7 linked regions of the Homo sapiens genome follow. The protein of the gene in region 6 interacts with the protein of the main gene of each other region in a biochemical or structural test. Each region holds a gene or a part of one and is shown on either strand. Other genes may lie near its edges.

Region 1 (3,500 bases), on a different chromosome or scaffold from region 6:
GTGGTGCGATCTCAGCTCACTGCAACCTCTGCCTTCTGGGTTCAAGCGATTCTCCTGCCTCAGCCTCCTGAGTAGCTGGGATTACAGGCACGCACCACCATGCCTGGCTAATTTTTGTATTTTTTTTTAGTAGAGACAGGGTTTCACCATGTTGGTCGGGCTGGTTTCGAACTCCTGACCTCGTGTTCTGCCTGCCTCGGCCTCCCAAAGTGCTGGGATTACAGGCGTGAGCCACTGCGCCTGGCCGAATAGTCACTTTTAAAGTTATGTAAATTCCCTGTAATCAGAAATGGGAATGGGAAGGAAAGAGAAGGAAAAGAGAACACAGAACAAACGTTTCTAGTACTTGTTATGTATAAGGCATTTTACATACATTGAATCATTTAGTTACAGTGAGGGGGTAGTACTTTTAGGAGCTGAGTATGGCTATCTCTGTTTTCAGATTAGGAAATGGAAACTTAGGATCGTCCAGGTCTGAATCCTGGCTGTGCCACTATTAGCTGTATCACCTTGAGTGAGATACTTAACTTCCTTATATCTCTGTTTTCTCATCTGTAAAACAGGGATAATCATAGTACCCACCTTACTGAGTTGTGAGGATTAAATACAACAAGCCACCTTAAGCACTTAAAAAACATGCGTGGCCTGAGTAGACGCTTGGATATTAGTTATTATGTCACCACCTGGCTGGAGGGCTCCCTCATTCACATGGGTTCAGTGTGGGGTGTGCACCCATGCCTTCCTGAGGAGAGGATCTTGAAGGGAAGCAGAGTGGTCGGGGGTGCTCACTTGCGCAAGATGATCTCAGAGGCGCCCTTGCTGTACATACGGAAGCCACCGTTGGGATTCCTGATGACGGTGCTCATTGACTTGCGCACTGAGTTAAAGGTGTACACCTTGTAGAGCTTCTCCTCGGGCACTTCATTACGCACAGCCTGATAATCCTGCTTCAGATCTGTGACAAAGCCTAGCAGAGCACACTCGGTCTTGTTGCCCACCTGCCGAGGCAGGCCTCCCTCCTTCTCTGGAGGCTGGGAGAAGAAATATACACAGCACTATTGAGTAAGATGCCTTGACAAGGCAGAGAACTTAGGGAGAAAGAACTCATTTACAAAGCCTTCACATTATATACCTGGAGCTCATAGGGGAAATAACATTTTTTTTTTTCTTTTTTGGAGATGGAGTCTCGCTCTGTTGCCCAGCCTGGAGTGCAGTGGCACGACCTTGGCTCACTGCAACCTCCACCTCCCAGGTTCAAGTGATTCTTCTGCCTCAGCCTCCTGAGTAGCAGGGACTACAGGTACCTGCCACCATGCCTAGCTAATTTTTGTATTTTTAGTAGAGACCGGGTTTCACCATGTTGGCCAGGCTGGTCTTGAACTCCTGACCTCAGGTGATCTGCCCACCTCAACCTCCCAAAATGTTGGGATTACAGGCATGAGCCACAGCACCTGGCATCTTTTTTCTTTTTCTTTTTGACATAGCACCTTGCTCTGTTGCCCAGGCTTGACTGCAGTGGTGTGATCTCAGCTCACTGCAGACTTGACCTCTTAGGCTCAAGTGATCCTCCCACCTCAGCTTCTGGAGTAGCTGGGACTACAGGTGCGCAACCATGCCTGGCTAATTTTGTTTATTTTTGTAGAGATGAGGTCTCACAATATTGCTCAGGCTGGTCTCGAACTCCTGGGCTCAAGCGATCTTACCATTTTGGCTTCCCAAAGTGCTGGGATTACAGAAGTGAGCCACTATGCCTAGCCTGTTGTTTTTCAAGGGTAGGCAGAGAGGGGTCAGTGGTAACCGTGATCCTTGTGCCATCCAGGGCTTAGGGATTTTGTAGTTTGCTCTAGTGGTAGTGCTGGTGTCTCGCCTTGTGTGGGTCTTATTCTAATACACTATGCTTGTTTCTAGAAAGTGAGTAATTTACTTCTGATAAGCCCAATTCTACTTTGGGTTACTTTCTACTTTCCCTCCTTAGAGACATTGCTTTTACATGCTAATTGGGAGGGTATTTCCTGGCCATAGATTCTTACAGGCCCTTACCTCCAACCCTCCATTGACTCCCAGGGATTTTTCTGTAGTCTCACCCAAACATGTTCACTCCAGCGTGAGAAATGGGATGTGGGATGGCAATTTAGGCAGTGTAAACAATAAGGGGGTTCATTTCAGAGAAAATGGATGTTCCCTTCCAACCACCCACTCTAAGTGTCTACGCAAAGGAAATGCTTACCAGAATCTTGGAGGTATAAGCACTGTTGATAGAAATGCCATTGACAATGAGGTCCAGGACTTTGGGCAGGAAGACATCAGGGCTTGGGATTTGACGGTAATGGATGCCCCCAATATAAGCTTGTACCACAGTCATGCGGTTCATGGTCAACGTGCCTGTCTTATCAGAGCAGATGGCGGTGGCGTTGCCCATGGTCTCACAAGCATCCAAGTGCCGTACTAGGTTATTGTCTTTCATCATTTTCTACAAAGGAGAAGAGAAAAGACTTGAGAGGGGGACTAACTGGACTCTCCTAAATCTAGGTCAAAGGCCATTTCCTAGCCAACATCTCTCCACATTTCATCTTCCAGTCCCACACAAAAATCCAAGATACTGACTGGGTGCAGTGATTCATGCCTGTAATTTCAGTACTTCGGGAGGCTGAGACGGGCAGATCACCTGAGGTCAGAAGTTCAAGACCAGCCTGGCCAACATGGTGAAACCCTGTCTCTGTAAAAGATACAAAAAGTAACTGGGCATGGTGGTGCACACCTGTAATCCCAGCTACTTGGGAGGCTGAGGCACGAGAATCACTTGAACCCGGGAGGCGGAGGTTGCATCATTGCATTCCAGCCTGGGTGACAGAATGAGACTCTGTCTTAAAAAAAAAAAAAAATCCAAGATACCATTTTTGTCATTCTCTTAAGATTCTGCTGGGTCATTTCAACATTGATGCATCTGACAGAGATGGTCCTTCCATAATACCAGGGACTTCTGCTCTTGTGAGGCACCAGCCAAAGTTTATAGATGATAGAATGGCTTATCTTTTCACTAAAGGTTACATGGTACCCTTCTCTCCCATCTCTATCCTAAAGGAAGAGATAGGATTGTTCTAGTCTCACCTTCACAGAGTAGGCCAGTGAGATGGTGACAGCCAGAGGCAGCCCCTCTGGCACAGCCACCACCAGTACAGTGATGCCGATGATGAAGAACTTGACAAAGTACTGGATGTAGATGGGAGTACACTCAGGGAGCCATGGTCTGCGATTTATCACAAAGTTGTCAATCACAAAGTATAGAATCAGGATGAAAACCGTGAGAGCAGACATGAGCAGACCTGTCCAGAGAAACAAGTCATATGAACCCAGGCTGGAGGGCAGTCCTAGGGCCCTAGCCAGAGATAGATTGGCATCAGTTGTAGCCTTTGTTGCCAATTATTAAAACCACCATCGCCAGGAAGACTTACTAAAATCCCCCCCATTCTCTGTTGCTTGTACATTATAGCATAGGGAAC
Region 2 (3,500 bases), on a different chromosome or scaffold from region 6:
TAGTTCCTCAAATCTGAAGACTACAAGGGCCCCTGGGTCACCATTCACTCTTCCCATTTAACAGACGTGGAAGTGGAGGCCCAGAGAGGGAACAGGCTGCCTGCTACCACTTGACAAGCTAGTGGCAAATTCACCTCTGAGACACAACCACCTTGGGGAATGTATAATAATTAAAAGTCATCACCCAGCAGCAGGTTCCTTTTAACCATCTGCACCTCCCACCACTCCTCACCACCACCTAACGGGTCAGGGATCACTGGATCTGTCTGACAGAAGAGGAGACTAAGGCTGAGTCAAGAGTCACTTAGCCAAATCCACCCACTTCTTCGTTTCGTTGTTGTTGTTTGAGATGGAGTCTCGCTCTGTTGCCCAGGCTGGAGTGCAGTGGCACAATCTCAGTTCACTGCAACCTCCACCTCCCAGGATCAAGCAATTCTCCTGCCTCAGCCTCTGGAGTAGCTGGGATTACAGGTGTGCACCACCATGCCCAGCTAATTTTTGTATTTTTAGTAGAGATGGGGTTTCACCATGTTGGTCAGGCTGGTCTCGAACTCCTGACCTTGTGATCTGCTCGCCTCGGCCTCCCAAAGTGTTGGGATTACAGGCATGAGTCACCAAGCCTGCCTTGTTGTTTTTGAGACAGTCGCGCTCTGTCACCCAGGCGAGAGTGCAGTGATGCGATCTCGGCTCACTGCAACCTCCGCCTCCCGGGTTCAAGCAATTCTCTGCCTCAGCCACCCAAGAAGCTGGGATTACAGGCACCTGCCACCGCCTGGCTAATTTTTGTGTCTTTAGTAGAGATGGAGTTTCACCATCTTGGCCAGGTGGGTCTTGAACTCCTGACCTCATGATCCACCCGCCTTGGCCTCCCAAAGTGCTGGGATTACAGGCGTGAGCTACCTCGCCCAGCCAAAATCCACCCACTTCTAATGGCAGAGCTGGGGCTCAGCCTGTCAGGGAGGAGGGGTAGGGCTTCCTCCCTGCTTCTCTTCAATTCCCCCCTCGAGACCTCACAAAAGCACATGCACCTGCCACCAGTAAACCTGCCTGAAGCAAGACATGGCCAGACAAGACATAGGACACACACGACACAACTGAACACTGACAGCCCCCTTGCACAGGGCTTCATATACAGCAGGTGCTTAGTAAATGTCTGCTGAGTGAGCAACGCAGTCAATCAAGACAGGCGCCCATGCAGGAGCCCACACGTCTGCCTGATGCCCTTGTGTGGGGAAAAGAAAGAGATCAAAATGGAGTTTCTTATGTCTTCCTTTTCTACATAGACACAGTAACAGTCTGATCGCCCTTTCTTTTCCCCACGCTCTTGAACGAGCATCTCCATAAGCACCCAGGCTCCAGGCTCAGAGTCCTGCTAACTGCCCCACTGTGGGCACATTGCTCAACCTCTCAGGGCCTCTGTGCCCCCATCTGTAAAATGGGGTAACCATGCCTGCCTCACAGGGCCATAGTGAGGACCCACTGAGATAAAGCATGTTAAGCACTTAGAACCACACCTAGCACATGACATGCAGCAGTAAGTATTGGCCGTTATCTTTCTCATCATCTTCCTCGTCATCATCTGTGCTTGTGTCTGTCTCCCTGACACAGGGAGCATCTTGAAGGCAGGAACCAGGTAAGATGCAGCTGCAGACACCCCCCAACAATGGCATCCAGGCCTTGAGGAGGGGGCATTAAGCAAGGGGTGGATGACAGAGGGTAAAGACTGACACAGGCACCTATACCCCAACTGTGGGCCTGGACAGGGAATAGTGTATGGCTTCTGTCAGGTAAAAATGCCCTTCCCCTGCTCCCAAAACAACAGTCCACCTCCCCCCAGCTCTCCAGGAGCCTTGCCTACTCAGGCCCTGCATCCCCCACGGAGCACCCCCAAGCCCCAGCCCAGGGAGGGGGACAGGTCTAATGAGCCGCCCACAGCCCCCTGGTGCCCGCAATCGAATTGGCAATCAGTTTGCTGCAATTAGATTTCCCAGATCCCGCTGGTGATTGATTCTAAATTACCCTCATTAAAGTCTGGGCTGGCAGGCAGGGATGGGGGAGGGCAGGATGGATGGGGGGGTCCTAGCTGGCAGTGCAGGGGGTACAGGAATCTCTAGGGTCGCCTGGGCCAAGGCTAACCCCAGGGTGAAGCAGCACCAGACAGCACCCTGGAAGCCCATGGCCCATCCAAAAGCAGGATGAAGGCCCAAGTCAGTGTTATCCCCAGTCCCAGCTGCACCCCCAGAAAACCCTGGCTAAGTAGGGGATGTGACGACAAGATCAGATGGGGCTCCAGGGTAGGAGAAGGGGCAAATGAACACCAGGCTCCACCAGCTCCTGGCTGTGTGTGCTTTGGCAGGTGGCCTAACATCTCTGAGCCTTCCTCTAAATAAGGGGAATCCCACCAGCCCCTCAAGAGTGGTGGGAGGCTCAGTGGGACCATCTAAGGCTGGAGAGCCAGCCCCAATCCATTGGCAAGGCCCCAGGCTGTGGCTGGGCCATCAGCTGTGGGATGTCAGGCTGTAGGGCTGGCCATCTCTCTAGGACTCTCCACCCCTGAGATCCTGCGTAAACATCAATAGTCACCTACTCTGGGCCAGGGCCCATGTGACAGACAGAACACAGCCGAGATGCTCCCTGGCTGGGAGGAAAATGGAAAGCACCCAGTCTCACCAAGTCCTGGGCTCAAGCTGCAAATAACAAGGCCTCTCTGGAGTTCCAGGAGTGGAAGGGCCTGAAGAGTCATCATGCAGGATGGACTGCAGGCTGCTCAACAGCTCTGGAGAACCAGCCCCCAGAAACTCAGCACCACGGACCCTAGAATGTGCTTCCTCTCATCTGGCTTAAGTCCTGCTGGCTCCAACTGGGAGTCCGGCCCTTGGTCTCCTTCTAAGGGTACCCCCACCCCCAGAGTTCTCCTTCAGGCCATCCATGATTATTCAAACTTAGTTCCCCCTCTCTCCAAAAGAAAACCCTGCTCCTCACCCCCAAGCAGTAGTTCTTCAGTAAGACCCAGAGAGGGACAGAAAAAGAACAAAAACCAAGGCAGGTGAATGGAAAAAAAACAAGATTTGCAGGAGCAGCCCGCTCCTTATTTACTTTAGTACTTTATTTACTTTATTACTTTATATTACTAATTCTCAAGCAACCCTGAGGTCCCATTTTAAAGAAGAGGAGACTGCGGGTTCAGAGAGGTTAGGTGAACTCACCAAGGTCACACAGCAGGAATGTGACAAAGCCAGGATTTCAACCCTGAATCAGCTGGCTCCAGGATCCCTACTCCTTCGATGACTTCAAGCTGCCCCCTCAGGCTTGGGACACCCCAAAACAGACATAGCACCAAGGCCAGGGGTGGGGAGAAGGCAGGCCTCAGCCAGCTGGGGCAACAGGGGTTGTAGAACCCTCTCCACCTGGTATAAAAGGCCAGCATAGGCGTTTCCTGCCCTCCACCCACAGCAGCCAGGTAAAAAAAGGGCCAGATCATTTGTTGGGGCCACCGCCAC
Region 3 (4,131 bases), on a different chromosome or scaffold from region 6:
AGTCCTTGGGGTTCAGACCTTGATAGATTCATTTTGTTTCTCATGAGCATGATGCCGGGTACATGTGCTATTAAAGTTTGCTGGGTCAGGAAAGTGCTAGGATGCTGCAAGAACATCCAGTAAAGGGCAGAAATATAAGAACTACCATCCTTGGCTGGAGGCAATAGAGTACTGTGGCTAACAGGCAGGCTCTGGAGTGGGATAGACTTGAGTTCAAATTCATTCTTAGCAGCTTCCAGCTGTGTAACCTTGGGCACCCTCTCTAAAGCTTCAACTTTTAAGACTGTGGAATGGATCTCAACTGTCAAATAGCACAAACCTCACTGGACTGAATGAGATGACCCACGTAGTGGCATATGGTAAGTGCTCAACAGCTATTAGTGGATTGGTGCTGGTCCAAGGGAGGACATGCCAGTGCAGCCCTTAAAAAGGGAGCTGGAGAAGAAAGGAGTTTGGGGCTGCATTTTCACATAAGGTGCCAGGGCCTGATGCTGAGCAAAACCTTTGTATTGGGTGCCACCGACTGTCATCTCTTGTTTAGGTTTGACTGGGGAAACGTTTCCACAGACATGAACTAGTTTGTCAAGGCTGGCAAGGGATTTTCAAGGGTTTAGGGGTGCAGTCTAGGCTCAGAGCTCAGAGTGCAAGCCACAAAAGAGAGCCATCTTCCTGAGTCACCAAAACACTTGATTCGGGCCTCTGACCCTTAGCTGGCAGCCCCTTAGGATAGGATGGGCTGTGCCTGGGTCTGTCTTTGCTGCTAGGGGCTCTGAGAGAGGAAGCCCCATTTGTCACTTTCATTTCTATGTCCCCAGCCCCTTGCAGTATGCTTCATCCTAAGCAGGCATTCAAAGTGCTTGTTGAAGGAATAGATTTGTGTCCTAGTTACAGCCCTGACTTCCACTAGATGCTCAAAGATTGCCCTGATTTTGCAAGGAAGAGCAACTACTCAGGGAAACTGAGGCACACTTGTAGGTTAGAGTCCCTCAGTCTGCAAGGAGACACACACATCCTCAGCAGTGGGGAAGTGGTTTGGTTACTGAAGCTGTAAATAAGAATTTTGTCTTTATATTAATTCCTACTCTGATTCTAGGGAAGAACTCTCCTCTCAGGCTGGAGTAAGGGGAGAACTGAGCTCAGACACTGCCTCTTAGTTGTGGGGGCTGCAAACTGCCCCTCCCTCATGATATCTTCTCAGCTGTTTGCAAAACAGTCAGGGAGGAGGTGAAGCCCTGAGCCAGGCGGCCTGTCTGTCTCTTTAAATGCTGGGGTCTGTGTGGGAGAGGGAGGGGCCGGCTCTGGAGTGCGTGAAATTCCTGGGCTCCTCCAGCAGTCTCAGGCTCAGCGCTCAGCCCTACACATCGCCTCTTGCATGCAACTCACAGAGAGGGAGAGGCAACCTGTCCTCCCCTCTCTCAGCCTCGGCATCTCCAGCCACCAAGGACCTGCTTTTCGCACCTCCAACAACCCCTCCCTTCTACCCTGCCACTCCCTCCCAGAGAGAAAGGAAAAGGAGAGAGAAAGATTCTGGAATTTGAACCTACCCAAAGAGGAAACATACCCAGCAAACTCAGTTGATTAAACATCAAACAGACATACAGACAGATCCCAAATCTTCTGTTCAACTGGAAAGGTAAGGTTTGCGGGGAAAGGAAGGCAGTCAGGGCATGAAACAACTCAAGGTTCTTGTCCGTTCTGGGAAGAGGTTGCTCCTGAGAGGGTAGAAGTTTTCAGTTGGGAGCAACCAACCTAGATTTTCTTTTTTGAATACTGTATCCATGAGCCTTGGCTGACTGTGGAAATGGCTTTTCAACTGCCTTTCTTTTCCTTCAGTTTCTCCTGGAAGTTGGGTCCTTTTCCTCCAGATGTTGGAAAAGTCAGAGAATGTTTTAGATTTTTATCTTCTTCTTCTTTTTTTTTTTTTTTTTTTGAGTCTTTCTCCTATTTGCTTGAATTGTTAGTCTGAAATGATGTGTGCTCATCACTTCATTTTGGGCAGATACTTTTTTTTTGACATTTTGTAGTCACTTCCCCCCTCATTTATTCATTTATTTATTTGGGCTGGTTAAAATGAGAAACAGAAAGGACACTCTGAGGATCACAAGAAAACAAAATTGAATTGAGACAGGGATTTCCCTAGCTGTTGAGGAATTGACGTGTATGTGAGTGTGTGTGTGCTTTTTTTTTTTTTTTTTGAGGGGGTGTGAGGAGGTGGTCCTAGAGTCTAAAAATTCAGGTTGGACTCCTGTCTTGTGAAGGTGGGCATACTTGGAGAAGGTGAAAAGGGAGTGTGTGTGTGAGTGTGTGTGTGTGTGTGTGCGCGGGTGTGTGCTCCTGTTTGGATCGGTTACAAGGGAATCTTCCTCCACTGCCTTCCATTTGTTTATATTAATGATTTAGTAGCAGGCTTGCCTGAAAACTTCCACTCTGTGTAAGCACTGTGGGTTTTGCAAGCTCTCAGTGACCTTAAAGCCTGGTTCGATGTATTGTTTTTTCCAGGCATTGTGCTGTACCCAGAGTTTCAGCTCTTTCCCTCTCTCTTTTTTAACCACAAAACTTAACTGCTTTAGAAACATCATCCTGATGACAAGGAAAAAAATGTGTCCCCCCACCCCCCATCCCTTCTTAGGCCAGTGATGTAATACCAACCTAAGGGCTCGGCTGCTTTGCAGGTGACTTACCCTGTGATTACTTGTTAAAAAAAAATAAAATTTTCCCTTCCTCCATTAAATGTCTGCCTCTTTTAATTTGGATGTAGAAATATCATCATGCAATGAGAACATCATATTTTTGCTAACCATTATTGGGGTTTAGGTAAAGTAGGATTGCTCTTCTCTGATCTTTATTGTTAATACTTTTTTTTTTAATGCAAAGGTCAGAGATCATTGAGAGCTAGCTTAGGATGGAGCAAGATAGAGTCAGGGCAAATAAAAGAGCTGGTAGGACAAGAGCTGTCTTCTCCCCGCTTCCTTCGGTTCCCGCTTTGGGGAGATAGTTTTTCTTTTACCACTACAAGCCACCCCAACATTCTTCTTTCTTCCTCTCCGCTGGGTCCTGTGGATGGCCCTGGGAGGGAGAGGGGGCACTCCTTGTCACACCTGGAGGATGGTGTAATTTTGGGGGTCAGATGACCGTTTGCCTTTGTGATGAAGGTTCCAGTGGAAATTTGAACTCCCAGCACGCTGCGTGACTTGGTACCCAGGATAGTCTATCTGGGGGCACCTGGAGGTTAGTCTGGGGAGGCTGGAGAACTGGCTCTTTATTAATTTGCCGTTCTGGGTAGAGCCTTCCTTCATCGTTCAAGGGCTTCTGCATCGCCTTTCAAGTTAAAATGGTCCCGCTGGTTATGATGGGCAAGTTTACCTAAGGGCTACTGGGTATGTGGCGGAAGGATGGAGGGGAGTGAGAGGAGGCAAGGCTGGTATTTATTTTTTAATCTTCGGGCTTAATCTGCCTAAGTCATATGGGGCAAACGATATTTCAGACGGGTGCTGGTTGTGCAGATATTCCTATTGTTTGATTTTTTGTTGTTGTTGGGGAGTGGAGTAAGGGCTCTTGGCCCATTTTCTGCAGCCTGAGGTTCATCCTGCGAGTCAGTCTTCCTTCTGGAAGGGGGGGAAAAGGCTGGACACTGGAAGTTCGCTATTAAAGTGAGCAACAGGGCTGGGTTTATTTTTTAAAAACAACCGGACTGTGCGAATGCCCTTTTCTGGAGCTTTCTGGCCCTTTCTAGTGAAATAATAATTTAAAAAAAATTGCTTCTTGAGAAGAGGAGGGGGCAGAAATTAAAGGGATTCTAGATTTTGAGAGACAGCTACGTCTTTGCTTCTCTGGTAGTTCCCTATTATTAATTATTGGGGTTTTGACGGCGTTCTGGCCTCCGTTTTTGTTGATTTCATTTTAGTGCTGCGTTTCTCCTGACTATGTTGATGATTTGCTGCTTATATAAGGGAAAGGATGTATTGAGGTGGACTGATGCTTGGGGTTTTGAGATCGGCTACTGAGATTGGGTGGCGGTTGGTGTGTTTGTCGATGTGCATGGTAGGAAGGTCTTTTCTTTTGGGTGGTAGGGGATGAGAGAATGGTGGGAGAACGGTAGATGAGATGCTACAGCAAACGGGGATGTGGGGG
Region 4 (4,116 bases), on a different chromosome or scaffold from region 6:
TTACCTATTGGGGTAAAGAGAAACTTCACTTTGTTCAAATAAAGTTATATTTAGGTCCGAAGGTCCTAAAGGTAATATTCCATAAATGAACCCCGTGAAGAACAAAGCACCAAATATAACATTGTTTGTGAATCACAGAAAATATACTGTCCCGCACTGAGAATAAGGGAGTGGGTGGACAGCAATTAATGGGCATTGTTGTCAGTCAGATTCTAGGAACTTTTAACAGTGCATCCCTGGAATAATCCATGACCTCCATTACATAAACGCTTCCTTTCAAAACATTTTATCTCGGAGAAATTATTTCCATCTCACGTTAATCTCAGGATAATTCCGTTTTTGCTTTTCTAACCATAAAAGGATTTAATCACCTCCTAAAAGCCGCTGAGAAAAATCACTAAACCAGCTACCTGTATGGCAGTATCCTCATTTATCCAGCTTTTATCAAACGTACCATATAAAAATATCAATCAAAGGAAACGGGGGCCAACATTCAGCGACTCGGTTTTTGGAGCTGCTCCTGCTCCTCTGAACTGGGTCTATTCTTGGGTCAGTACTAAGCTACCTTACAGTAAAGCCTTTTGAGTTTTAAGCATTTTCAGCAAAATCACTTCCTTCTTTACAGCAACACACATGATAGGAAGACACAAACCTTGGAACACAATACAAATGTTGTATTCACCAGTCAAGGGTTCTTGGATAACACACAATCCTGGCACCTCCATTCTCTCATTCATAAAGTCGAGAACTTTTATCATAGTGAGGGATTTGCCTAAGCTAAGCTGCAAACTACATAGCCTCCTCGCTTTTCCAGTCAATTTCAGGCATTCTTTCCATTGTTTTCTTTCCTCCTCTTCCTCCTATGTGACAATGCCTAACACACACACACACACACACACACACACATGCACACACACACACGAACACACACACACGCACACACCAGCAGACGTTCTTCTTCCCTTTCCCTCACCTTGACCTGCAGATGCTCCCTCATCCTCTCCCTCCTGAGCAGCTGCAGGATCCTGACGTTGAGTTGCTGGTTCCCCTTCTTCAGGTGTTGCTGGTTCCACTTCATCACTGAACTGCTCGGGCTGGGGAATACGTGTGGGTGTGCAAATAAAAAATAAGTTTCGTTATTGATACAAAATTTTACATATATACACAGAATACATAGCTATTTCTGGTCCTAACTAAGCCTAAAGACATTTCTCCAACTCTATGCTCTATGCCCAATAAGGTTACTCCACCCACAGGGAGGTTACTGTGAGAAAAGTGACGCACGAGGACTTTGGAGGCTATTGTACTCTGTGTTGGAATACATGTGTACAATCTGTCATTAACAAACAAAGCCGGAGAAAGAAGTCATGGGCAAAAGCTGAAGAACACGAGAGGAAAAAAAAAATCCTCCAGAATCAATGTTTCCTTCATGAGATGCCATCATCATTTTTTATGAGCAGGAAAGACCTTTATCAGCATTTCCACACTAATGCAACAACGCTATCACAAAAATTAATTTCTACTAATAGAAAACATCGAATTAACGTTCAAGCACTCACCCGCATAGGCCCAATCATTTCAGGAGGCTGTACATAGGGTCTTGGTCTAGGCCAATAATAGGTCGATCTTCCTCGCCAACTCATATTTCACACTGAAAACAGACAACCGTGATTGGGAACGTGCGCTCCACAGGGCTGCTATATTCGATCACTTCCATGGATAAATGTAAACTTGCCGTTTTACTTTTGAAAATACTCTCAAGATAAGTCCCAGAGTTAAGCATACGTGTGTACGCTGTCTGAGTGCCTACAAAGCCACTTCTGCTGGCCAGGCTGGCAGAGCAATCATCTTAAGGCATGTGGCAAAAGGCAGAGGACATTTTTTTCTAAATTTCTTTTGGACACGCGGTCTCGCTGTGTTGCTCAGGCTGGAGTGCAGCGGCGTGATCACAGCTCACTGCAGCCTCGACCTCCCGCTCAAGGGATCCTCCCACCTCAGTGTCCCGAGTAACTGGGACTACGTAGGCGAGCGCCACTGCGCCCCGCAGACAGAGGTCATTTCTGATGAGGTTTAGTTTCACAAGTGCACTCCCCACGAAAACCCTAGTGAATCACAATTCTCGTGATTGCTGCTTTGGGCACACTCCCACTTCCTAGAGCCATTCACCCCCCCTCACAACAAGTTTGGTTGGACCGCACTGCCTCGCCCACTCCTTCCCACTGTTTTCGGACCTTCCATGGCGGAGGTGAGACCTTGCAGTGCTTCTCACTCAGGCGCTCCGCACTCCACACCGCTGGGGGGGGCGCTCACCAGGCCGCAGCCTTCCCAGGTGCCAGGCCCCTTCTTCACCGCCCGCCTCGCCCCCGCCGGAGGCCCCATTCAGGGAATCTGCCCTGTGTCGTCGGGGGTTCCCGGCACCTCGGGACTTCCATCCCCCCAACAGCACTCACCCCATCTTCACCTGAGCCCCTGACCGCCTCCCCTCCACGGCCCACCTTCCTCCCCGTCCAGGCCCCTTCACGACCACGAAGCCGCCGGTGGCCTCGCAGCCTGTGAAGGGAAGGAGGACGACCTCGTGGCCCTTCTCCCTCGGAGGCCACAGACCAGGAAGCGGGACCCGCCTGACCCACCCAAGGCCCTCTCCACCCTCACTCACACTTCAGCCCCCGGGATGACTGGCCTGCAGACCTACCAGATGAATCTCAGTAGAGGAAAAAGAGTCCGGACGGCAGGAACCACACAGCACTGCCTCACAGCTCCCTGGCGTTCTTCACGTGGGCGAAGGGGCCGGGCAGAAGACGCCCAGTGAACATGCGCACTGAGGCGGGAGCCCAGGGAGCATGCGCGGCTGTGGGCTGGGGAGGGCTGCCGTTCCCAGCGCCACGCCCCAAACCCTCCATGCCCATCCTCATTGAGGATAAGGGAATCCCACCTCCCTCTGCTGTTTCCTATGCCTCTGGGACTCAAGTAGTGCTCCCCTCAAAACTCACCCCATCTTCAACTGAACCCCACCCCCAACCCAGGGCCCTCTCTTGCCCCGGACCCACCATGGGGACAAGGACCACTGTGACTGGCTGGGAAGACAGGTAAACCACCTGCGAAAACAGAAATAGCAACCTATCCCAAAAGGAAATTGTTCATTGTGAACAAGTCAGAGAAAGAGACTGAAAGAAAAATGAATAGAATCGCTAGGACCCGTAAGAAAATGCTAAAACGATATCTATCATTTGTAGCATCAGAATCACAGAGGGTGAAGTGACAGTATTAGGGAAACAGGACAGCCAGAGTGAAACCACGTGAAAATATACTCCGTCTTGAAAGCAGCAAGATACATAGTCCTACCAGTCACAACCCATGGTCCTAAGATGTTTGGAGTTGAGAAAACAGATGAAAGGTACCTCCAAGGACATGCTCCCACAGCAGCGGAAAGTGCACGGTTCCCAACACCCATTAACAATATATGCTTTCAACAGAATTATGCTTTCATGGCCTTACACACTGGTAAGTCAAGGATAGTTTTCTTTAAATCAATAGAATGATAAAAGTCATCATGCTCTTAGCCCACCCGCACAAAGGCACAGATTAACTTTAGTCTTTATATAGATAAGACCCCTATATAAGAAAAACCAGACCAGGCCAAGGCTCACGCCTGTAATCCTAGTATTTTGGGAGGCTGAGCTGGCCAGATCACCTGAGCTCAGGACTTCGAGACCAGCCTAAGCAACATCAGAAAATCTCATCACTACAAAAAACAAACAAAAAACCATCGAAAAATTAGCTGGGCATGGTGGCATGTACCTATACTCACAGCTACTCAGGAGGCTGAGGTGGGAGGAGCGCCTGAGCCCAGGAGGTCAAGGCTGCAGCGAGCTCTGATAACACCACTGCACTCCAGCCTCGGTGACAGAGTGAGACGCTGTCTCAAGTTTTAATAATCGAACCTAAAAACGTACAAATTTATCAATCGAATTCACTATATTAACACATGAATGGGAAAAAACGCTGTGGTAATCGAAATAGATGCACTGTTTGATGAAAATCAACATATATTCAAATGAATACTCTCAGCAAATTTGGAACAGAATGGAATGACTCACTCTGATAAAGTCCATCTAC
Region 5 (3,500 bases), on a different chromosome or scaffold from region 6:
GAATAAAATAAATCATACATTTTATTAAGACATGAATGAGGATCCATTATTCACATAGAAATTAAAAGAGCTTTCCTAACATCTCTTCATTCACAATGCTAAATACAGTGGGGGTAACTTCTATAACAAATATTTCCCTTTCAGATGACATGTCACTGTTATTTAACCTCTGAAAGCAGCTCAAATTCCTAACTCCATCAACGGGCATTATCCTTAGCCTGCCATCCTACACGAACATAATAGAACATAATAGATTTCCTTCTTCCTTTAGTTTCCACATAGTCCATCAGTTGGAAGGTAAACACCTAACAGATTTAGATTTCTTAGCAAGCGATCGATGAAATAAACACCAAATTTCACTGAGTAGGTTCTTACAAAGATAACTCACTCTATCTCTGAGGAAAGCTTGTAGGAGCATTTCCTGTGGAAATATTTAAAATTTTAGATGAAGATTTTCTTTAAACAGTATGTAATGCTACATACATTCTAAGCACTCTTGTGAAAACAGAGTGTGGCGTTAATATTAGTCTGGCAAGCCAAATGTTAAATTAATCACACAGTTGGGGACGCGATAACATTGTGATCTCAAGGTAAGAAATAGAAGGCATCCTAATTCCCAGACACTGGATTTTTCCCTGCTCAGCTTCCCTCTTAAGTAATTAGTGAAGCCCAGGAGATGAGCAGTGCTGAAGGGAGCTTTGCATACCTGGGAGGGAATAATGCTTTTATTTTGGGGGCCTTGCTGCCAGAGGATTTCATCCAAGTTCAATAAAAGCCAGGGTTTATTTAGACAGAATTGGAACCATCCGAACCACAGGGTGGAGATCCGTTTCTAATCCCCCTGCCCATCCGTATAATGATATAAGATTTAGCTAAAGCAACCTATTAGAATAGACAATAGCCACATATTTCCAGTGGCTGATTTTCTGAATGCTCAATCCTGGTTTAACTTTCAAAATCCAGTACAGAGCAAATTAAGAGTCTTCAGTCAACCTCTCTTCTAGTAGATTTTTAAAATAATTATTCTAATTAATTCACAGAGTAAATTCGACTGAGACTCCTGATCTGTTAAGACATTACTGAATGACTCCTGGAAGCCCTAGTTACTCACACAGGCTCATTGTAAGCACCTCAGCCTCTCATACAATACACCAAATGATTAAACTTTACCTGAATAAATTCCTAAGTACCAGTTAAGATCTAGCTTCTCGGTTACATTTCCTCCTCCATTTACAGTGACATTTAGCATACTTTGTTTGTTTGCCCTATGGAACATGGGGAGAAAAAAATATTAAGCTATATATGAAATTTAGATAAATACATTTTTTTAAAAATGAACCACAATTTGGGAGAAACGCTTCATGCTGGAAAATGATTCTCAGCTCACTTAGTCTTGTGTATATCTACCTTATAAAAATTCAATTTAAATCACAACTTTCAGTTCCCGAAACTGTCTGTGAACATGATGCCGCGGATCAGACATGGGTGGAGACCACCGCAGTTTACACTCCACCAGCAAGCACTCTAATTTTTCTTCGGGTAAACGAAGTGAGGATTAGAAGAGAAGGATCAACAAACACCTCCCTCTAACTCTATGGAAAAGCGAGTCTTCTTACTGATTTTGGAGTATTTCATACATCAGACCAGAAATAACTTACCAGTATGAAAGCCACCAATCTTGAAGCACATAGGCAACCTAGGAGGGGAGAAACAACAAAGACAAAAATCAAACTTGGGCATGACTTACCAACTCAAAACTCTCAATCGCTAACATGGACAACCGAAAGAAAGCCCTCAAAGCCGGGCGTGGTGGCTCATGCTTGTAAACCCCAGCACTTTGGGAGGCTGAGGCAGGCGGATCAACTTAAGGCCAGGAGTTCGAGACCAGCCTGGCCAACATAGTGAAACCCTATCTCTACTAAAAATACAAAAATTAGCCTAGCTGGGCATGGTGGCACATGTGCCTGTAGTCCCAGCTACTCCGGAGGCTGAGACAGGAGAATTGCTTAAACCCCAGAGGCAGAGGTTGAAGTGAGCCAAGATCGCGCCACTGCACTCCAACCTGGGCAACAGAGCAAAACTCCATCTCAAAAAAAAAAAAAAAAAGAAAGAAAGAAAGAAAGAAAGAATAAAAGGCTCAGAGAACTCGCATAGTTCTTCCAGCTCAGGTCTGTGCCAAGCCCAAACTCCCAGATATCAAGGGTTCAAGAAAATGCATATTCCATTTTAAAATCATTGAAAGATACCCTTTTTTCGCAGGTCTTTGTAACGGACATGGAACACCAGTAGGCAGCCCTCACTTTGTTCCCCAAAGACAGCACATTTCAATTCAGACCCCAAGTGAACTGCAAGATGCAGTCATAATAGCATAAACATAGGTACTGTAAATATCATTTTGAGGGCGCAAAACAAATGTCATTATTTACCTGAGCTGCAGTGTTTAGGAGAATAAGGAAAATGAAGACAATCCAGTGAGCACCAGCTCTGAAGTAATTCTTATAGGCCTGAAAACCAACTTTTCCTTCAGAACGGTTCTCCTCTGATAGTGTAACTGGGACATTCTCTGTCTGCAGAGGAAAAAAGGTGGTAAGAGACAAAACAGTATACAAAACTGTTCCCAAAGATGACAATGCACTCTGTTGACAAAGCTGTGGGGAAACAGGCAGAAGTCCAAAATGATCCATCTCCTGTGGAGAAGGGTGTGGAAATAGCTAGCCAAACTATACATCCACTTATTTTTTATTTATTTAATTTTTTTTTGACTCAGAATTTTGCTCATGTTTCCCAGGCTGGAGTGTAGTGGCGCGATCTTGGCTCACTGCAACCTCTGCCTCCTAGGTTCAAGCAATTATCCTGCCTCAGCCTCCTGAGTAGCAGGGATTACAGATGCCTGCTACCACGCCTGGCTAATTTTTTGTATTTTTTAGTGAAGACAGGTTTTCACCATGTTGGCCAGGCTGATCTGGAACTCCTGACCTCAGGTGATCCTCTCACCTCGGACTTCCAAAGCGCTGGGATTGCAGGCATGAGCCACCACACCCAGCTATATGCACTAATCCTTGGACCCAGCCATCCCACTTTCAAGGTTCTACTAGAGATAAGGAAATATCATTTGGACATTGTGGCGTGGCTTGCTGGAAGGATGCCATCAGGATGTTCAGCACTTACCTAGCACACCCAAATTCAAGTGTCAATACAGAAACTTGTTCCAAAATCATATACAAAAAGATATGGAACTCTCAACTGCATCACTCAAGATGGAAACATAAAAGAGCAGGGGGTCAAAACATGAGCTCAACACAGTAACTGGGGTCAAGCAGTGAGTCTCAGTAACCAGAGTTTGGAAAGGAAGGGATAGCATATGATCCTAATCTATTTGGTTCCTGAGTTTCAGAAATTGACTCCTGATAATTTGGCATGTGAGGGCCTAATCTGAATATCTGCAAGAATCCTTCAGTCTCCTGGATTTGGATAGTCAGGGTTTGTGTGGCAAGGAATAT
Region 6 (3,500 bases):
CGTAGACTCAGAAAGCAGTAGGGTGTTCTCCCAATTTAACACCAATTTGAAGGCCATTGATTGTAGGTTTCAGAGTTTAATGCCAAAGGGAATTGTACAGACACACATTCAGACCAAACTCTTTAGATCTCTCGACCCTCCTGAAATGCTACAATGTTCCTCCAAAGAAAACGAATGCAGTGGTTACAGGTTTGGGGAAATAATTACTTTTTTATAGGCTTGATATTTGTGCATACCAGGGAAAAGAGAAATGAGCTTTATGAGCCTCCTAACATTGTTAGGTGGCTTTTCTTCAGAAGATCACTTTAGCTCAAGAATTTTATGAATCTTTGGAGGGGACAATGAGTCATGTTTTAATTTGATTGACTTGGTGGAAAACTATAGCTACAGTGAAGCCTCTGTTCTTCCCCATCAGGATCCACGGGTGACAGTCGGTCTCAGAACCCCTACTATGCTCTTAAGATCTTTACTTGGTGCCATCCTGTGGGAGTCAACACATATATATCTACAGATCTAAGAATAATGAGCTTCAGAATAATTGTTTTTTCAATTTTTGTTTGCTATTAGGTTATGATTTAGGAAAATGTTCCTGTTTCTGAGCTTGTATTTCATCCACTGATTTGATATTGTTAGGAAACGGTATTATGGCAAGGGTGAGAGTGCCACAACCCGATGGCATAATGGATTCTGGGGAGGCTGTGTTTCTCTCCCTTGTGGAAGTCTCAATTCTCCTGCATCTAAAAGTTTTCAATGGTCTGTCCTCTTTCATCTCTCTACTCCTGCAAAAAGGGAGAAAAATAGGGCTTCTTAAAATATCTAGTGACTTGAGGGCAAACATCATTTCACGGCCTTCATGACCCAGCAGTCAGATCTGCAGCCAAGTGGATGTATGTTGATTGGGTTTGGAGCTCAATGTGCCACTCTCTTCCAGGGGGGCTATTAGTGTTCTGAGCTACAAGGAGACACCGGATTGAGTTTTCCCAAGGCCATAAATAAATTGGGAGCTATTTCCTGCTCCCAGGCACATTACTGATTATAGCCTGGTCTTCTAAATACTCTAAAAGCCTGTTCCCCTAAATGCTGGGAAAGAGTCCTGTAACCTCTGGGTGGTAACAATTGAAGGGTGAGTACACGGGCATTTATAAATCTTACACTTGAGCTGTTAATTGTTGCTTGGCTTGATGGAGCCTCTGTCTGTCACAAATATAATGTTAGCTTCTTTCAGGCAGGATCAAATGGAGCGTGTGTTATACTTCAAGCAAGGAAAGAAAACTGTTGCAATCTAGTTTTTGTTCACTTTAATAGTACCTTCACATCACTGGCTGCCATTCAGGATTAGCAACTATTTTATTGACTTTGTATGCAACACAAAACCCAGCTTTGGAGCAGTTTACCCTGAGCCTGTGTGCAGGAGGTATTGCACACTCTGGTGGCAACGCTGCAGGTGAAAACATGGGCACTCTTCCTGTAAAGGCCACTCCTTCAAGACACAGGATTCTCACCTGACACCATCACCCCTGGCTGCCCCTCAAGTGGCCTAGGCTTAATCCAGAAGGAATGTTCTGGCTTGGCTATGTTTAGTAGTCTACAGTAGTTTGGTTAAAATATGGAACATAGTGAAGAGCTGCTGGTTTTTAATGCTTCAAAACAAGTTACACGTCCCTCGTGTTATCATTTTCCTTAAGGTGTATTCAACTCGAGGGGAAGGTAGCATTCAGCAGGTCAGCAGGGAAACCGGTAGCTCCCCTGCACTCCACCTCACGTGAGCAGGGCCTGAGATCCTCAACCACTTCGAACAAATTGCAAACACTCTAAAGGTGCCTGGCTTAAGAGAGATGACAGAACAGAGACAAAAAACTTGATAGTCTGTTTTCAACAGGGCCATAGTAAAGTGTAGTTAAGAAAATAATATCACAAAGTCCAGTAAATAACACTATTTACATCTAAAACTAGCAGTTGCATCCTTCTTGGTAGCAGAATACTATTTTAAATTAAAAAGATAAGAGTAAGCTGGGGTAGAGGGATGTCCTATGTATTCAATAATACTATAATTTATTAAATCCTGTGAGTCAGAGGTATGCTAATCTCAGCCAAAATAGACCTAAATTAAACTCAAGACTTTTTTTTTTGGAGGGAATAAAGAAGGAATGTGAAAAGGCTTAAAGCATTTCAAATGTCAGTGCCTGGTTCAAACCAGTGCTCAGGTTTTGCTGTCTTCCACATCTTTTGCTTGTGTTCTCATTTGGGCCAGCTTGTATGTTTTAGAGGTTTTAGTTTCCATAGAAAATTACTGCAAAGCTCAGAAAACATTGTGATCTACTTAGAGGTTGGGGTTTCAGCTTTTTAAAGCCATAACACTGTCCTTTGCCAATTGGAGGCCTTGGCCCTGCCCTGACCTGACTTTAGCTAATGAAATATAGCAAATGCAGATGGATTTAGCCTTAGCGCCTTTTCTCCGTTTCCCCCACTTTTGCATCAAACTCTCCAGAAAGCATTATTAATCTTTCATTCTCCATACTGGCAATCATATGTGTTCGAACACACACATACACACACACACACATACTCTCTCTCTCTCTCTCTCTCATTCACTTCCATCTAATACCTGCTGGTCATCAGAGGCCATGGTCAGCTCCTCGCTGTCCCCGAGTGCAGATGGTTACTGCTTGGCACTGAGTCTGGACTTGGCATTTCCCAGGGCACTGCCTCCTGTGAGACCTCCCCAGTAGGCCCTCTTTCCCAACTACATTTTAGCCCTCAAGTGGGAACCTTAGAGACCCCAGTTAAAGTAATTATAGGCAGGAGATTTGGGGCTGACTCTGAAACCAGATATCTCCATGCCTGGAATGTGGGAGGGAGGAAGGTGAGGGCCGTGGGATGTTGAACCCTCTTAACCTGATCACCTTAGTCCTCGGAAGATATTCCTTCTGGAAGCTCTGACCAGCTGTGCACATCCTCCCGGGACTAATACTGCATTTTACCGACTTTCATATCAAAAGTGAGGAAACATGAAATGTTTACATCCAATGAGTGGTATCAGAAACCTGATAAATTCTACAAATAAATGCAGTCTTTCTCTCGGTACAAAATATTTCAAGATCACTAGTCATGTTTGCTGTTGTTTTTTTTCTTAGTCAAAAAACCTATACTCACTTCAGATGCCTCTATCTCTGTCTGCTCTGCCACACCTTAGACTTAACAGCTCTAAGAAGGGGGCTGAGGCTCCACCTCGGAGCGGGTAATGCTGCCTGGCAGAGACTGCCTCTGGACCGCCAGTCTCAGAGGGGGATGTCCACGTGTCTGCACATCAGCACAGGTTATCTAGCCAGAGAGGATCCCCAGAGTAGAGTTCCATAATTAGTTGTTTGTGTGTTCCGTTGCCACTCTCACTGATTTGAACAACTCTGAAAGCGTTTCAACTATCAGGTAGTTTTGTTTTTATAGCCCCATCTTTCGTCTTCCTTCTGATTTTTTTTCCTCCCCAATTCCCTTCCCCTTCT
Region 7 (4,045 bases), on a different chromosome or scaffold from region 6:
GGTACCCCTATATATTCCAATATTCTTAAAATGGTGTTCAGCAAAGGCGATGATTCTATCTCCAAGTTAGTTCATTCCTTTAACAGTTTCATTTCAGCCTGTGTAACTGCTTTAGGTGGGGTGGAGGATCTAACGAAAAGGTCTATTTCGTTGTCAGGTAAAATTCTGCGTGGTTTTACGTAACTTTCCTGGCATAGATAGTGAAATAGTATATCTGGTGGGAAACCTCTAAGGATAGAGGATCTGGGCCTATAAATGACCTGAACCAAAGTTGTTTTTGTTTGTGACTGTTCACTTCCAAAAACAGACCAAAAAAGCTATGCAGATGTGGGTTATGTCAATCCTCCATCAATAACATTTAACAGATGCTTCCGAATGCCTGCTCCAAGCTCCTGACACTACTGGATGTGCTGTCTTTCTGTCCTTCACCGTCCCATTGCCAGGGACACAAGGGCCAGGCTTTTGGTCCATGCCCAGGGCGTTTGTCCACACCAGATTCCTTCGCTGCATCTTTTTTTTTAAACACCAACCAGAGCCCGGCGGATTGATGCACACTGTGGAAGACACGCAGAAGCCCAAGTAAGTCCCTGGCCCTGGAGCATTTGCGGTGTGCTCAGTGACGAAGGGGCGGAAATTCTTGTCATGTTAAATCCATGGCTCTCAGCACACTTCTCAATTCCAGAATCGCCCACAACGATTTTCAAAATTGAAAAGGAACTGGGATTTGTGCCTTGAGAGGGTCCCCAAACCTTGGAGCCACTCAGGGTGCTGGCTTTTGGCTACACATTCCCACCAAGAGATTTCATTCTTGCAATTTTCAAGGCCAAACATCTCTTAATCAGCGAATCATTCCTCAAAGGGCTGGAGGCGTTCCCAGCCCTGACCAGTTCCCTCAGCCACCCTCAGGTGCTGCCTTCACTTCCAGCAGAACTCTCCCTAGCCCTCCTGGACATCGCTGTCAAGCAAGTGTCTTGACCTTCCAAGAAAGTCACCTTCTTCCGTCAGCACTGGTTTCACAGTATGCCATGTCTCTTATCTCCAACTTGTAGCAAATTGTCCCTCTTTCCACACTGTGCTCCTTGACCCGTCCAGCTCCACATTCCACCAACAGACCATCCGAATCACCCACAGCTGCAGCTGTAGAAAAAAGCAAACAAACAAAAGCAGTTGCTCGTTGATCAGAATCGACCAGCATGCATCTAGGGCCCATAGCAGCCTAAAGGCTGAGAAGCTGAGTTACTCAATAGCAGAAAAGTCCAAAGCAGTGTGAGGACAACCGCCAGGTGGTGGCTCAGAGGAGGACACAGTCGCTGTGGGCAGGTGGTCAGGGCGCAGGAGGGAATGAGCTGTGGATTTTTAGTAATCTACAACAATCAGGCAGTTCCAGGACACAGGGAAGTGAGTGTGAACAGCCAATGGACCCGGAGCCGAGAGCCTGGGCAGGCGTAGGCTGGACTATGGACGCCCTGCAACCCTGCCAGGCTGGGAAGGGGAGGCTTGATCCTGAGCGCGTGTTAGGAAGGAGATGCCCAGGTTCAGGTGTATCGTGCATTTTTTTTCCACAGTGCAGAAATGACATTTCTGGTTGGTCTTGAATGTCTGCTCTGGCCAAGCCACCTCCTCTCATGCTAGCTAACCAAGTGGCACGTGTGCCCACGCAGGCCATTCTAAGGAACACTGTAATTGTCTAGACAATTTTCTCTCAAATACTCCGTCCTGGAAGCGTCTGGTTGGCAGAAGAGGGAAGGCAGGAGGGTGGCAGCGTCCCGGCTGAGTCCTCTTGCACATGGGAGCTGGAGTCCAGCCAGGCTCCAGAGCGGCTCCGGCTGGCAAGGGACCTGAACAGGAAGATGAGACTCGAGGTTTTCTGCATGTGAGTTTGGGGTGAAGCTGTGGATGTGGGGTGGGCGGGCTGGGGTTGACAGTCATCTGTTTTGGAAGCCCTTAGGCCCTGCCGGTTAGATGTGCATGCAGCCAGGGGTCCGAGCGTTCTCCAGAGGAAGGGACCGTGCTGGCCCCTACAGGAAAGGAAGCTGCAGGCTGGTCTGGGTGGCCTCCAGAGGACCCCACGCAGCTGGCATGAGGGCAGCCAGGCTCCTAATGAGCCAGGAACGACAATAATCCAGTTCCTGAGTGTTTGGGCAGAACTCTTTTCATCGCTTACCAGGCCTGTTTGGGAGGAAGGACTGAATCTGTTCAGTGTTTTGAGGCCACAGCTCAGCTCGGGGAGCTCAGCGCCACTGCCCCCTTCTGTCTGCTGGGACTCCCTCGTTTTTCTGCAAAGAGGGCCAGGCAGACTGTTCCGAGTTTCCAGACTTGGGAACATTCTCCTGCTCCCTAAATACACCCCTGCCCTCCAACACAGACACATATTGGCATGGCAGGAGAGGGGGGGAAGTGATAGATCTCTCTCAATGAGGGTAAAAAATGGTGCTGAAGAGGAGAAATGCCATGCAATTTGAGACGTGAGTTAATCCTTCAGTTACCTGGGGCCCCACATCCCCAACAGCTGCCACGGCTTCCCAGGATGGGCAGGAGGGACCCAGGCAAAATAGAAAAGGAACCAGGATTAGTGTCCTGAGACCGTCCCCAAACCTTGGAGTGCTGTCCTCACTGGCTTTAACTGGGTGCTGGCTTTAATTCCCGCAGTGTTCAAAGCCAAACATCTCTTGATCACTGGGTTTCATTTTTGAAGTCTTGGGAAACCAGAGGACAGTTCATCATCGTGTGCTTCCAGGGGCTGGGCCCAGGTCTGCTGTGAAAAGATGCTGTCATCTGAGCTCAGCGTTCATGCCCGTGTCTCTCAGTCACTCACTGGAGTTGGGGACGGGCTTATCTGTTAGGATGATAAAACTTCCATAGCATACGCCTTGCATTTGCTGGTATCTGTCCCAAAGGGCTTGTCAGTTTTTACATATATTATCTCAGCATCTTCTAGATGTCTCTGCAGAGGAGCTATTCCTATGTAGACAGTCATTCCTGTGTAGACAGTGAGTAATAGGCTGAGCAGCTTGCCCAAGATTAGTCAGAATTGAAGCCAGCGCCAGCCCCCATCCTTATCTGGCTCCAATCTGATTTGCATATCTCAAGCTTACTGTGTTTTATTTACCCATCTGTATAAAGGGTTCAATGCTTCTTAAGACATCTACAGAAAAATCTATAAAAAGGAAGACACGTAGATTCTTCCTTTGGTGCTATGAAAATGTCACTATTAAATATTTCCTGTTTTCCAGTTAGTTTTTAGTTTTTAGGTAAAGATCAATAAAATGGAATATGTCCATTATTGTTTTTAAAAAAATCATTCTGTTGCCTATATATCAGAAAAGATCTTTCATTACGCAGAGTAAGAAGTCTAAAAGTCTGTTTTCAAGGCTAGTGCCAATGTGTTTTTAAAACGCAGGTGGCCAGCCTTGCCAGTTCAGGAATGATTCTTGGCGTTTTCAAACTCAAACGTTCCTCCTTCCAGCTAATCTGTGGATTCTTCACTCGCACCATTTGCAGGACAAGTGGCTGCCAGGGCCAGGGACTTTTCACCGGGTGACCAACAGCAACATAGTGTGGGGAATTTTCTACTCTGGGCCATTTGCTGAGAGGGCTCCTGGGCCTAAGCTGCTACCACCTCCTTTATCTCTCCCTGTCGGGTGACTCTATAAAAAGACAGGAGAAGCTGAGGCTCATTCACTCACTTTGTCCACTTCATTCCCAAGAGAAGTGTCGGGGGGACCTGCCAGGCTTAGGGGAAGCTCTGAGCTGAGCCCCTTGTGCAAAGAGGCGAGCCACCCAGAGGCAGCTGTTCCCTTCTAGGCCTGGAAGTGCACATGCTCATCTACAGCTTTCTTGGAAGAAGAAAGAAACAAAAACTGAGATTTAGAACACCAGGTCTGTTTCCACTGGCGGCCACTCTTGGGCACTGGAGACCAGCAAGAGCTTTGTTTTTAAAAGGCTCTTCCATGGCAGATATTCGCAGAGGCATCAGGGCTACACTTAAATGAAGGTAAAGTAAACATATGAAACCATATTTTCGATTCTACAGAACACTGCAAGA

The links.
Region 1: the proteins of PARD3B (region 6) and ATP2B4 interact in a test that uses a peptide from one of them, tested with the Homo sapiens proteins (one large-scale study listed by IntAct).
Region 2: the proteins of PARD3B (region 6) and SDC3 interact in a test that uses a peptide from one of them, tested with the Homo sapiens proteins (one large-scale study listed by IntAct).
Region 3: the proteins of PARD3B (region 6) and NRXN3 interact in a test that uses a peptide from one of them, tested with the Homo sapiens proteins (one large-scale study listed by IntAct).
Region 4: the proteins of PARD3B (region 6) and GAGE12J interact in a test that uses a peptide from one of them, tested with the Homo sapiens proteins (one large-scale study listed by IntAct).
Region 5: the proteins of PARD3B (region 6) and ABCC4 interact in a test that uses a peptide from one of them, tested with the Homo sapiens proteins (one large-scale study listed by IntAct).
Region 7: the proteins of PARD3B (region 6) and CLDN14 interact in a test that uses a peptide from one of them, tested with the Homo sapiens proteins (one large-scale study listed by IntAct).

Annotation. Positions count from the first base shown.
Region 1 is NC_000001.11:203,706,832-203,710,331, reverse strand, and holds part of ATP2B4 (plasma membrane calcium-transporting ATPase 4), read right to left. Parts: intron 3,324-3,500; coding exon 3,109-3,323; intron 2,471-3,108; coding exon 2,228-2,470; intron 1,032-2,227; coding exon 790-1,031; intron 1-789. UniProt on the Homo sapiens protein: Calcium/calmodulin-regulated and magnesium-dependent enzyme that catalyzes the hydrolysis of ATP coupled with the transport of calcium out of the cell. By regulating sperm cell calcium homeostasis, may play a role in sperm motility.
Region 2 is NC_000001.11:30,898,759-30,902,258, forward strand, and holds part of SDC3 (syndecan-3), read right to left. Parts: intron 1-3,500. UniProt on the Homo sapiens protein: Cell surface proteoglycan that may bear heparan sulfate. May have a role in the organization of cell shape by affecting the actin cytoskeleton, possibly by transferring signals from the cell surface in a sugar-dependent mechanism.
Region 3 is NC_000014.9:78,169,042-78,173,172, forward strand, and holds the start of NRXN3 (neurexin 3), read left to right. Parts: upstream 1-1,331; 5' UTR 1,332-1,633; intron 1,634-4,131. UniProt on the Homo sapiens protein: Neuronal cell surface protein that may be involved in cell recognition and cell adhesion. May mediate intracellular signaling. Functions as part of a trans-synaptic complex by binding to cerebellins and postsynaptic GRID1.
Region 4 is NC_000023.11:49,320,721-49,324,836, reverse strand, and holds the start of GAGE12J (G antigen 12J), read right to left. Parts: upstream 2,801-4,116; 5' UTR 2,693-2,800; intron 1,652-2,692; 5' UTR 1,644-1,651; coding exon 1,560-1,643; intron 1,095-1,559; coding exon 974-1,094; intron 1-973.
Region 5 is NC_000013.11:95,161,952-95,165,451, forward strand, and holds part of ABCC4 (ATP-binding cassette sub-family C member 4), read right to left. Parts: intron 2,568-3,500; coding exon 2,427-2,567; intron 1,697-2,426; coding exon 1,659-1,696; intron 1,266-1,658; coding exon 1,171-1,265; intron 1-1,170. UniProt on the Homo sapiens protein: ATP-dependent transporter of the ATP-binding cassette (ABC) family that actively extrudes physiological compounds and xenobiotics from cells.
Region 6 is NC_000002.12:205,615,975-205,619,474, reverse strand, and holds part of PARD3B (partitioning defective 3 homolog B), read right to left. Parts: 3' UTR 1-3,500. UniProt on the Homo sapiens protein: Putative adapter protein involved in asymmetrical cell division and cell polarization processes. May play a role in the formation of epithelial tight junctions.
Region 7 is NC_000021.9:36,477,323-36,481,367, reverse strand, and holds the start of CLDN14 (claudin-14), read left to right. Parts: upstream 1-1,245; 5' UTR 1,246-1,873; exon of another isoform or gene 1,874-3,994; intron 3,995-4,045.